Linked DNA regions of Homo sapiens. The protein of the gene in region 3 interacts with the protein of the main gene of each other region in a biochemical or structural test. Each region holds a gene or a part of one and is shown on either strand. Other genes may lie near its edges. The genes, in order: TJP1, TJP3 and AKAP10.

What was found.
Region 1: the proteins of AKAP10 (region 3) and TJP1 interact in a test that uses a peptide from one of them, tested with the Homo sapiens proteins (one large-scale study listed by IntAct).
Region 2: the proteins of AKAP10 (region 3) and TJP3 interact in a test that uses a peptide from one of them, tested with the Homo sapiens proteins (one large-scale study listed by IntAct).

The regions. Positions count from the first base shown.
Region 1 is NC_000015.10:29,812,469-29,815,968, forward strand, and holds part of TJP1 (tight junction protein 1), read right to left. Parts: intron 1-3,500. UniProt on the Homo sapiens protein: TJP1, TJP2, and TJP3 are closely related scaffolding proteins that link tight junction (TJ) transmembrane proteins such as claudins, junctional adhesion molecules, and occludin to the actin cytoskeleton.
Region 2 is NC_000019.10:3,728,708-3,732,435, forward strand, and holds part of TJP3 (tight junction protein ZO-3), read left to right. Parts: coding exon 1-6; intron 7-1,320; coding exon 1,321-1,423; intron 1,424-1,647; coding exon 1,648-1,999; intron 2,000-3,227; coding exon 3,228-3,331; intron 3,332-3,728. UniProt on the Homo sapiens protein: TJP1, TJP2, and TJP3 are closely related scaffolding proteins that link tight junction (TJ) transmembrane proteins such as claudins, junctional adhesion molecules, and occludin to the actin cytoskeleton.
Region 3 is NC_000017.11:19,908,191-19,911,918, forward strand, and holds part of AKAP10 (A-kinase anchor protein 10, mitochondrial isoform 1 precursor), read right to left. Parts: intron 1,789-3,728; coding exon 1,736-1,788; intron 1,087-1,735; coding exon 991-1,086; intron 1-990. UniProt on the Homo sapiens protein: Differentially targeted protein that binds to type I and II regulatory subunits of protein kinase A and anchors them to the mitochondria or the plasma membrane.

The DNA.
Region 1 (3,500 bases), on a different chromosome or scaffold from region 3:
CTGGGGCTGAGCAAGAGCTGCTTCCTTTAGACAAACTGGCTTGTGCTCTGATGGAGCAGTGCCCTCTCTTCTGGCTTTCATGATTCATGCTGCTTTTCTGGTCTAAGACTTACCTAACACCATCCCATACTCTTCTCCCTGGTGCTCTCTTACAACACACGAACATAAAAGGATGTGAATGTATGACTTATAGAACATGTAAGTAGATGTATGATTACCTATGGCAAGTAAATTTAACCTCAGATCCTTCACCTGTAAAAACAGAGATAATCGTAGTATCTAACAGAATTGTGAAGATTAAATGGGATAATGCACATAAAACACTTAGCTCAGTATCTGTCACAGAGTCAGCATGCAATATAAGGGGCTACTGTTTGTTTTGACACATATTTCTCACACTTATAACTAAAATGTAAGCCTACTTGCCATGGCTACTGACTTGATTTTTATAGGTGATACAGCATCAAAATAGTGTACTTCTGTATTAACACTCCAGTAAGTATTAATACTCCAATAACTGCCACTGTTAGAAAAAAAAAATCAGTAAATAAACCTTCCTTAGTACCTTTATATGACATTACCAGGAAAAACTTCCACAATTATATTTTGAAAGGCAGACTCATTTTTGCCAGATTCATGTATTTCCCCTGATTGTGGCTTTTGGTGGTCTGATCAGTCAGGTAAGTGGATATCTTACTACTAAAACATACTTCAATACTTACTACTAAAACATACTTTAGTATGACAAACATCTTAGTCATAAAATATCCTCCAAACTAAGACCAACTTGATTTTTCAAGATAATCATAGGAACACCAAAAGAAGCTTACTACCTTTTGCTCAGCTGTTGGTACTCCAATGACTGCCTCATAATGCATATCTAATTCTTGCCCCTCAGACAGACATATACAATATTTTTCTCCAAAAAGCCACAGAAGTCTAACTGAAACTATTTTCTCCCGAAACCAATAAAGTCCTCATACAATGGAATACCATGAAGTACAAGAACTGAATGAAAACTAATGAGCTACAGTTCTCCACAACATAATCTTACAAACATAATGCTGAGCAAAAGAAGCCATATACAACAGAATTCACACTAGAAGATTCTGTATGCGCAAAGTTCAGAGAGTCAAAACTAGTGCTTTCAGAATGCATAATTAGGTGGTAACTATAAAGAAAAACTAGAAAATGAGAAACCTAGAAGACAAGATACATGCAATCTTTGAAGAAGGGAGGATATGACCCAGAAAAGGCATGTTAGGGATTCTAGCACTTATCATTATGGACAGAATTTTATTTGCTGCTCTCTACCCGCACCATTAAAATGCCCTATCAGTACAGAGATGTGTTCACTGCTGCATCTCCAGCACCTACAACAGTGATTGGTACACACGAGGTAACCAACAAATATCTGCTGAATGTAAAATTCCGCTTTAGGAATCCAAATTGTTACATATTTCACAGCTTCTTGAACCCTAAATGTAACAGTAACAGCTAGTATAGTGTTCATTTGCCTTGTCAGTATATTCAAGGAGCTGTTAAGCATATAAGCCAATTACTTTATAATTCTTAATGTCTCCCTCCTATTGAGATATTGATACCAAACATATGCAGAAAACACTTACATCAATGTATCCAGATTCAATTCAAACATTTAAAAACATTAACAAGGAAAAATACAGAAACTCTGCTAAACAGCAAGCCCAGGTTTAGAAAATGACTTTGTCACCTCCTCCAACGAAGAAAGCACACAAGAATGCTCTGTTATTACAGGATGACCATAAGTTTGCTCGTATTTTTAAGAGTAAACAATGCAAATCCTTTGTTTCTTCAACAATGAGTTACACAATTCACAAAGTGATCATTACAGCGTATAGCAGTTGAAAACTGTAAATTTCTAGGATCGGGATCCCAAACAAAATGTACTCATTTAATATGTGTTAAGCTAACAAAAAGAATTAGTCATTACTGGTATCCTCCTGAATTTTAAAATTACATACTAAATTAAGTGAGCTAATCTTATATTAAGTTTAACTGGTGATATTCAGTTACCAGAAACTGTTGTACAATCTCCAAGATAATGACAATTCCAAAAGCGTGAAAATTCCTAAGATAACCAAGAAGAAAAATGAACTTTTCAGTCTTTGGGAATTTACATTTTTTTAAAAAGGAAAAAATATTTCGGTAAGTCAAAAAAAATTAATTAAACCAGGTATACGCTAATCTTATGTTCCTAATTAGAATCCACAGAAAGTAATATCAGCTTCTGTTTTACCTCCTTTCCGGACATGATAAACTAGAATTGAGATCATTCACCAGTTAACTCACTTCCCAGTATTTTCAGTATATCAACTGAAATATATCCGCAACACAAACTAATAAAACCTTATCTCTTGATCTATCCCAAAGTGAGGGCCACCTGAGATTCAGTATTGAGCACTACATATATGACAGGGTTTTGTTATCACATTTCAAATGGTGTTTTACAGTACAAAGTTTGGTAACATTGGTGTTCTCATGATCTAAAGCTGTGTTCTTGTGGTAAAGGCAATCATTCAGAGTCCATTTATTTTCATCCATGCTTAGGATATAAGATAAAACTCCCTACCCACGTATTCCCCACATACTGCTCATTATTAAGAATTTATCTGTTTAAGAGGAATGGAAATAAAGCACCTGGCTAGCCCATAAAGGAGCAACCTGAAGCCACTCTTCTCTGCAATAAATAAATAAAGATGCACTCTAGGTCAGAGAGAGCAAAAGTCTTATTTTTATTGCTGGCTTATGCAAGAAATACTGCAACACACCAATTTTATAGGATTAACTTTAAAATCTGTAAACTATCCTAATGTCTATTTCTTTCTACAAGACTAAAAGTTGTTAAAGTAAAAAGGTTTTTCAAGATTTGCTTTCAAAATTCAGAGGTGCAAAGCAAGTTCCAGTCAAATATTCCAGGAGGATCATTCTAGACATAAACTATCTTTTTATTTAACATATCAAAACTTTGCTAATTAGAAATGACTGGCTCATTCCACTAGCTTGTCTTCAGCTACTATAATGCTCAGTCATACACAATGCTGAGCACGTGAATGCTTTCAGGCAGGCCTGAAATGAGCAATGACTGAGCAGTCACAGATGGGTGGCACTACACATGAATTTACAGCTGGACTCATGGTCTTTCAGTAAGGTGAATTTTTATCATATCAGGGGTATGTCAAGTAACAGGATTACGTCTTCAAATTTTCCACCAAAACTATTATTTTTAAAGACATTTTCCTTAGCAGCATGGTGATCTATCATATTTATACACAGTTTTATTCTTAGAACTGTACAGAGTTTACATTTGGTCTCTAAACAGAAAAGAGATTAAAGAGCAAGTAAAAGTCAGAGCCAGACCTTGTTTCCAGGATTGGAGGGGAAAAAGGGAGTGGAACTACTGTACTTTTTTTCCTTCAAATCAAACGGGAAGCAGTACTACATATACTGCGTTACAGCCC
Region 2 (3,728 bases), on a different chromosome or scaffold from region 3:
GCTACAGTGAGTATCCAGGCAGCTGGGTTCTGGCGGGGGAGGGCACGTGGAGAGGAGAAACCAGGCCAGGCACAGTGACTCACACCCGTCATCCCAGCACTTTGCGAGGCTGAAGTGGGCGGATCACCTGAGTTCAGGAGTTTGAGACCAGCCTGGCCAACATGGTGAAACCCCGTCTCTACTAAAATTACAAAAATTAGCGGGATGTGGTAGCGTGTTCCTGTAATCCCAGCTACTCGGGAGGCTGAGGCAGGAGACTTGCTTGAACCCGGGAGGCAGAGGTTGCGGTGAGCCAAGATTGCGCCACTGCACTCCAGCCTGGGTGACAGAGTGAGACTCTGTCTCAAAAAGAAAGTAAGTGAGGTGAGGAGAAACCTTTGTGAGCCTGGCACTTTCCAGCTCTGTCAACACAGGGCTCGGACTTGGCAGTAGGACAGTGTCAGAGACTTGGGCCTCACTTCCCTAAGGTACTTCCTGGTCCTTCACAGGAATTCTTGGGGTCATAGTGGCCCCAGAGCCCTTTTGGAACATAAAGTCCTGGAAACCATCGAGTGTTTGAGGGTTTGATGCTTCTTGGAATTATGTTGTTAAAATGGTTCTGGGCCCCAAGTGGCTGACAGGTGATATGGCTCAGCCCAGCCCAGAATTAGGGACCACCAGGTTCAGAGAGAAAGAGCTAGAAAGAAAATATGAAATACAGACAGGAAGAGAGGGAAAGAAAAGCAGAAAGTGGGGATTTGTGGTGTGGGGAGCGAGGAGTGAGAAGATGCCAGGTGTAGCTGTAGCTTCAAGGCCGGGTGCAGTGGCTCACACCTGCAATCCCAGCACTTTGGGAGGCCGAGGTGGGCGGATTACCTGAGGTCAGGAGTTCAAAACCAGCCTGGCCAACATGGTGAAACCCCATCTCTACTAACAAATACAAAAATTAGACGGGTGTGGTGGCGGGCACCTGTAGTCCCAGCTACTAGGGAGGCTGAGGCAGAAGGATCGTTTGAAACGAGGAGGTGGAGGTTGCAGTGAGTTGAGATCATGCTACTGCAATCCAGCCTGGGCAACAGAGTGAGACTCTGTCTCAAAAAAAAAAAAAAAAATGTAGCTTCCACTCTATGATTATAGTAGGTTCTACAATTGGCTCCATTTTACAGGTGAGAAAACGGAGGCCCAGAAGGATAAATGTCTTTGTGAACCTAGGGACACCAATGAATTAGAACCAGGCCTTGTAGATCTGGAGGTTCCAGGGGCACCCCCTCCCCAGGGAGGGCTTGTTACGAGGGTCTCCCCTGCAAAGCCTCCTCCGTAAGACCCGCCCTCCTCTCTCAGGACAGGCGACCACATCGTCATGGTGAACGGGGTTTCCATGGAGAATGCCACCTCCGCGTTTGCCATTCAGATACTCAAGACCTGCACCAAGATGGCCAACATCGTGAGTAGGCAGCCCCTGGCATGGCCAGCATCTCTGACCCCAGCCTGGGTCGTGCCGCTGTGGGGGTTGTAAGCTTCTGAGAGCAAGGAGTCATCTTCTCATCTTACAGTTTGGACATTGAGGCCCAGAGAGAGACTGGTGTCCCCCAGGGCCACCCGGGGGCTGAGCAGAGCCTCCCCCAGCCCTTGCCTGTAGCTGACCCTTCCTGTCCCCTCCTCTAACAGACAGTGAAACGTCCCCGGAGGATCCACCTGCCCGCCACCAAAGCCAGCCCCTCCAGCCCAGGGCGCCAGGACTCGGATGAAGACGATGGGCCCCAGCGGGTGGAGGAGGTGGACCAGGGCCGGGGCTATGACGGCGACTCATCCAGTGGCTCCGGCCGCTCCTGGGACGAGCGCTCCCGCCGGCCGAGGCCTGGTCGCCGGGGCCGGGCCGGCAGCCATGGGCGTAGGAGCCCAGGTGGTGGCTCTGAGGCCAACGGGCTGGCCCTGGTGTCCGGCTTTAAGCGGCTGCCACGGCAGGACGTGCAGATGAAGCCTGTGAAGTCAGTGCTGGTGAAGAGGAGAGACAGCGAAGGTCAGAAGAGGCGGGAGGTCGGACACGATCAGTACTGGACACAGGGCACCGTGGTCGGATGGGCGACGGTTTCAAGTGATTCTCCTGCCTCAGCCTCCCTGGTGGCTGGGACTCCAGGCGCCCGCCACCATGCCTGGCTAATTTTTGTACTTTTGGTAGAGATGGGGCTTCACCATGTTGGCAAGGATGGTTTCGAATTCTTGACCTCAGGTGATTCACCCACCTCGGCCTCCCATAGTGCTTGCTGGGATTGTGGGCGTGAGCCACCGCGCCCAGCCTGGAAGCTACAACTACACCTGGCATCTTCTTGCTCCTCGCTCCCCCCACCACAAATCCCCACTTTCTGCTTTTCTGTCCCTTTCTGCCTGTCTGTATTTCATATATTCTCTCTAGCTCTTTCTCTCTGAACCTGGTGGTCCCTAATTCTGGGCTAGGTTGAGCCATATCACCTGTCAGCCACTTGGGGCCCAGAACCATTTTATCAACATGTCCCCGCGCTGATCCCCGGGACCTCTGTTTAGGCCACCTCACTTAGCAAGAGGGACTCAGCAGATGGGATGGAGTGAAGGACCCTGAGCTCAGAGGTGATCCTGGATGATCTGGGGGGCCCAGTGTCACCACAGGGTCCTTATAAGAGGAGGCCTGGCTGAGTGTGGTGGCTGATGCCTGTAATCCCAGCACTTTGGGAGGCCAAGGCAGGCAGATCACTTGAGGCCAGTAGTTCTAGACCAGCCTGACCACTATGATGAAACCCCATCTCTACTAGAAATACAAAAATTAGCCAGGCGTGGTGGTGTGCACCTGTAATCCCAGCTACCTGGGAGGCTGAGGCACGAGAATTGCTTAAACCCGGGAGGTAGAGGTTGCAGTGACCTGAGATTTTGCCACTGCACTCCAGCCCCGGCGATAGGAGTGAGACTCCTTCTCGAAAAAAATTAAAAAATAAAAAATAAAAATTGAAACAATGATGATGTTATGAGCAATAGAATGCCCTTAGCCTGTGCATGGCAACATCACGAGTGGCACGGTGACCTGGTGTCCCCGCCCCGTGGAGATGTCATTGACACAATCAGATCTCGGGTCCTACGGGCGACATCACTGTTCTCCTTATGATGCCATCAAGGTGTTAGGATGGGAGGGCCCGCACCTGGACTGCTTACAGCAGGAGAATGCTCCCAGGCACCCGTCTCCAGAGTCCTGCCTCAGTTTCCCTCCTCCCCCCTTACAGAGTTTGGCGTCAAGCTGGGCAGTCAGATCTTCATCAAGCACATTACAGATTCGGGCCTGGCTGCCCGGCACCGTGGGCTGCAGGAAGGAGATCTCATTCTACAGGTGAGGCCGGGCTTCTTGTCCTGAGAGCAGGGAGACAAGGCAGGGTTGGGGCGGGCAGTCCCACGGAGTCATACAGCAAGGACAGCAGAACTGGGCCCCAAAGCATTTACCTTCAGTGTTGTTGCTTGTATCTCAAAGGTTGCAGATGGCCAGGCATAAAACCCCCTTTTTCCCCAGCTACTACTAATCCACAGCCAAATGTCGGTTTCTAGTATCCCCATGGGGTTGTCTGTTTCTAATACCCTCTAGCTTTGATGTGCATCAGAGACTCATGTGGGCAGCTGACTCCTGGACCTACCCTAGGTGACTGGATGCTAATGACCCAGTCACCAGGTTTAGGGGAGCTGCCCTGCCCTAAAGGATGGTATCTTTCTGGATTCTTCCCCTGAAAGTCTGT
Region 3 (3,728 bases):
CTGTGAAGTGCTGAATTTTGTTGTGTTACTGTAAAGAGGGTTAGGCCTTTGTTTTGGCATGCAGTTGTTAGGTAATTTGACCCTTTAAAAATTTGCTTTGAAACTTGGTTCAGGTGCTTGTACTCTAGGACTAATTTATCTTCAGTAGTAAGGCATAACCTCTGTGAAGACACTACCCAATGCCTTGTGTATTACTAAGTCTCTCTACTCTGGCCAGATCCTTCTGGCCATGAACTTTTCTTAGCCCTATGTTCCAGCAATCATTCAGCCTACTAATTTCTGGGGGGTTCTCTACCTGGACACATGCGTTTTCACCCCACACATATACAGATCACTCCTAGGCCAAGGATCCATGGGAATCTCTCTAAATATCTCTACGGCTTTCTTTCTGGGCAGCTTCCTCTTTTCTGCTACCTTATCCTACAACTTCTACTCAAATTGAGCTCTCTGAACTTTGATTTTTTTTTTGAAATGGGGTTTCGCTCGTCGCCCAGGCTGGAGTGCAGTGGTGTGATCTCGGCTCACTGCAACCTCCGCCTCCCTGGTTCAAGCGATTCTCCTGCCTCAGCCTCCCAAATAGTTGGGATTACAGGTGCCTGCCACCACACCCGGCTAAGACAGGGTTTCACCATGTTGGCCAGGCTGGTCTTGAACTCCTGACCTCAAGTGATTCACCCGCCTTGGCCTCCCAAAGTGCTGGGATTACAGGCGTGAGCCACTGCACCTGGCCTGAACTTTGATATTTAACTCTTTCGTTCAGCAAGACTACTGGGCTCTGTTTGGTTTCCATGGTTTCCCTGTATTGCCCATTGTCCAATATATGCAAACAGTTGTTTCATTTAGTTTGTCAATTTTCTAGTTGCTTATGATAAGAAGGTAATCCCCACAGCAGTTAATCCTTCAAAGGCAAAGAAACCCCTTATGTTCTTTTTTATTTTTACACCTGGAAAATAATACTTTTTAGTTTACACAAAACGAAGTCATCCTTACCTTTGTAGATTTCTCTAACGGTTGATCATACTGAGCCTGCTGCATAATGTCACTGACTATCATTTTAGCAATCTTCCAAGCTAGCTCTTCCTGGGCCTAAAGAAAATAATTTAAACTGGTGATAATGGTTATTCATTAGATGGATCGAGATGCACATACTCAGTGCTCTTAACAAATGGCTTACGCACATAATTTCTACTTATTTGGATAAGAATTTCATTCCCATGTACGAAAAAACCTGGGCCACCCTCTGGCTATGAATATTAACATGTCATTCCCTGTCTTCCAGTGTCAACTACTGGATACCTAACACCGAACTACTTTCATATTAGATGGTCAAAATAAAACATTTTCCTTTTTTCACCTCCCATCTCTCAATGTACTTAATTAACTATTAAAAAAGCAAGCCTCCACTACTTGAAGTAAAACTGCCAGTGGGGAAGGAAACATTTGAGCTTTTGATCTACACACTGATTACTGATGCCTGCTGGCTGATGGAAACTTGAATGCATGTATATCCTTCAGTGGTCCTAGCCTCTGACTGAAGATACCTTCACTGCTACTACCAGGCAATTGTTAGATGTTAAGAAGGGACCACCCTTTCTTGGTACATTCTGGGTAAGAGAACATAAATGTGCCATGCTGCTTAAACATGGGACCTAAAGAAAAGGAAAATTTTAAACCTCACTTACATGAGGGTGGCACTTATAAACAGAAATCTTTTTATCCTAAAGGTAGGATTTACCTCATCAGTATTTCCTTGCACCCATTTCTTCATAGCTTGTGAGAACATGGATCCTAGTAAACAAAGACAAAATTGAATGTACATTTCATGCATAATTTTACATTAAAAATGCTCTTATTTGGCTGGCCATGGTGGTTCATGCCTGTAATTCCAGCACTTTGGGAGGCCGAGGTGGGTGATTCACCTGAGGTTAAGAGTTCAAGACCAGCCTGGCCAACATGGTGAAACCTGTCTCTACTAAAATAATAAAAATCAGCCAGGCATGGTAGCAGGTGCCTATAATCCCAGCTACTCAGGAGGCTGAGGCAGAAGAATTGCTTGAACCTGGGAGCAGAGGTTGAAGCGAGCTGAGATCGTGCCACTGCACTCCAACCTGGGCAACAGAGCGAGACTCCAACTCAAAAAAAAAAAAAAAAACCACTATCACCACCACCACCACAATGCTCTTATTTAAAAGCTGTTGCTTCCAGATATGGATATTCTTTTTTGTGTGATACCCCAAAACACTAAGGAATGTTACATTAATAAAAACTGATTATATTGCTTACATAACAGAGCATTTAACTTGCAAACATCATGGCTTGAAAAACTTTTGAAAAGGTGTTTCAGAGTTCTGGACTTTTCTTCTACTCTCCTCACTTGATGAAAGAACTAACATCTAGTGTTAGTTTGTGGCAAACATTAAAAAACAAAACAAAACCAAACCAAACCCTAACCAGGATAATGCTCTTGGGTAAGAATCTAGCAATACATTGGGAGACACCAACACATTTGTTATGTTTTCAAACCTTCCAGACCAGCTCCTATATAAAAGGGCTTCTAAGACAGAGTATGCTGCTACATTCTAGTTCTCTAGTCTATATAAACTAGCTGGGTGAGAGAAGAGTTTCAAAGAGCTCTACTCTATCCAAGCCAGAGTACGCCTTAACTCCCTAGGATGTATAAGCCCACATCTGTAATCACATGCTGAGAATCATCCGAAGTAGGCCAGCCTCTATTTCTATGAATGAAATACACAGCTTACTTTTTTATTTAATAATTTGAACATGCTCACTTCCTAACTTTGCTTTAAAACAAGTTAATTGTTGGTAGATTATTTCTTGAGGCAAGGTCCTGTTTAATTCAATAACTGAATTCATAAAAAATACAAAACCTGGATCCTTTTCCCTCAATTTTTATTATTACCTAAGGGTTTAAATATTGGTTTAATGAAATTTTACTGCCAACCAGAGTCTACAGAGTCACAGTGTTAAATGCTCTGCATGAAGGCTCAACTGGCTGTTGAATCACCCCATGCACTGTTCTCTCGTCAGGCCCCCCTGCAGAGTCACTCTATTGACATGTTAGAAAACCCATGTTAAAAAAACTCAATCTACCTTCCCAATTTACACATGAAATCTGCCACCAAATTTCACCTTAGAATTCAACCTTGGACATATCATAAATCCGACCTTCCCTCTAATTCTTGCTACCACTACCTAACTTTGAATCTTTTTCTTCTCCTATCAACATTACCAGCTAATTCCACTGGCTGACTGGTGTCCCTCATGCCAGTCTCTCCCACCTCCAATTCATTCTCATTCTACTGACAGGGAAAAGCATCTGGTTAGAACTCTGTTTAGAAATCTCTGGGCTGGGCGCGGTGGCTCACGCCTGTAATTTCAGAACTTTGGGTGGCTGAGGCGGGAGGATCACCTGAGGTCAGGAGTTCGAGACCAGCCACAACATGGAGAAACCCCGTCTCTACTAAAAATACAAAATTAGCCAGGCGTGGTGGTGCATGGCTGTAATCCCAGCTACTCGGGAGGCTGAGGCAGGAGAATTGCTTGAACCTGGGAGGTGGAGGTTGTGGTGAGCCGAGATCACGCCATTGCACTCCAGCCTCGGCAACAAGAGCAAAACTCTGTCACAAAAAAAAAAAAAAAAAAAAAAAAAAAAAAAAAAGAAATCTCTGATGTCTACATGATGGGAGTCAGTCTAAGCTCCTTAAAAT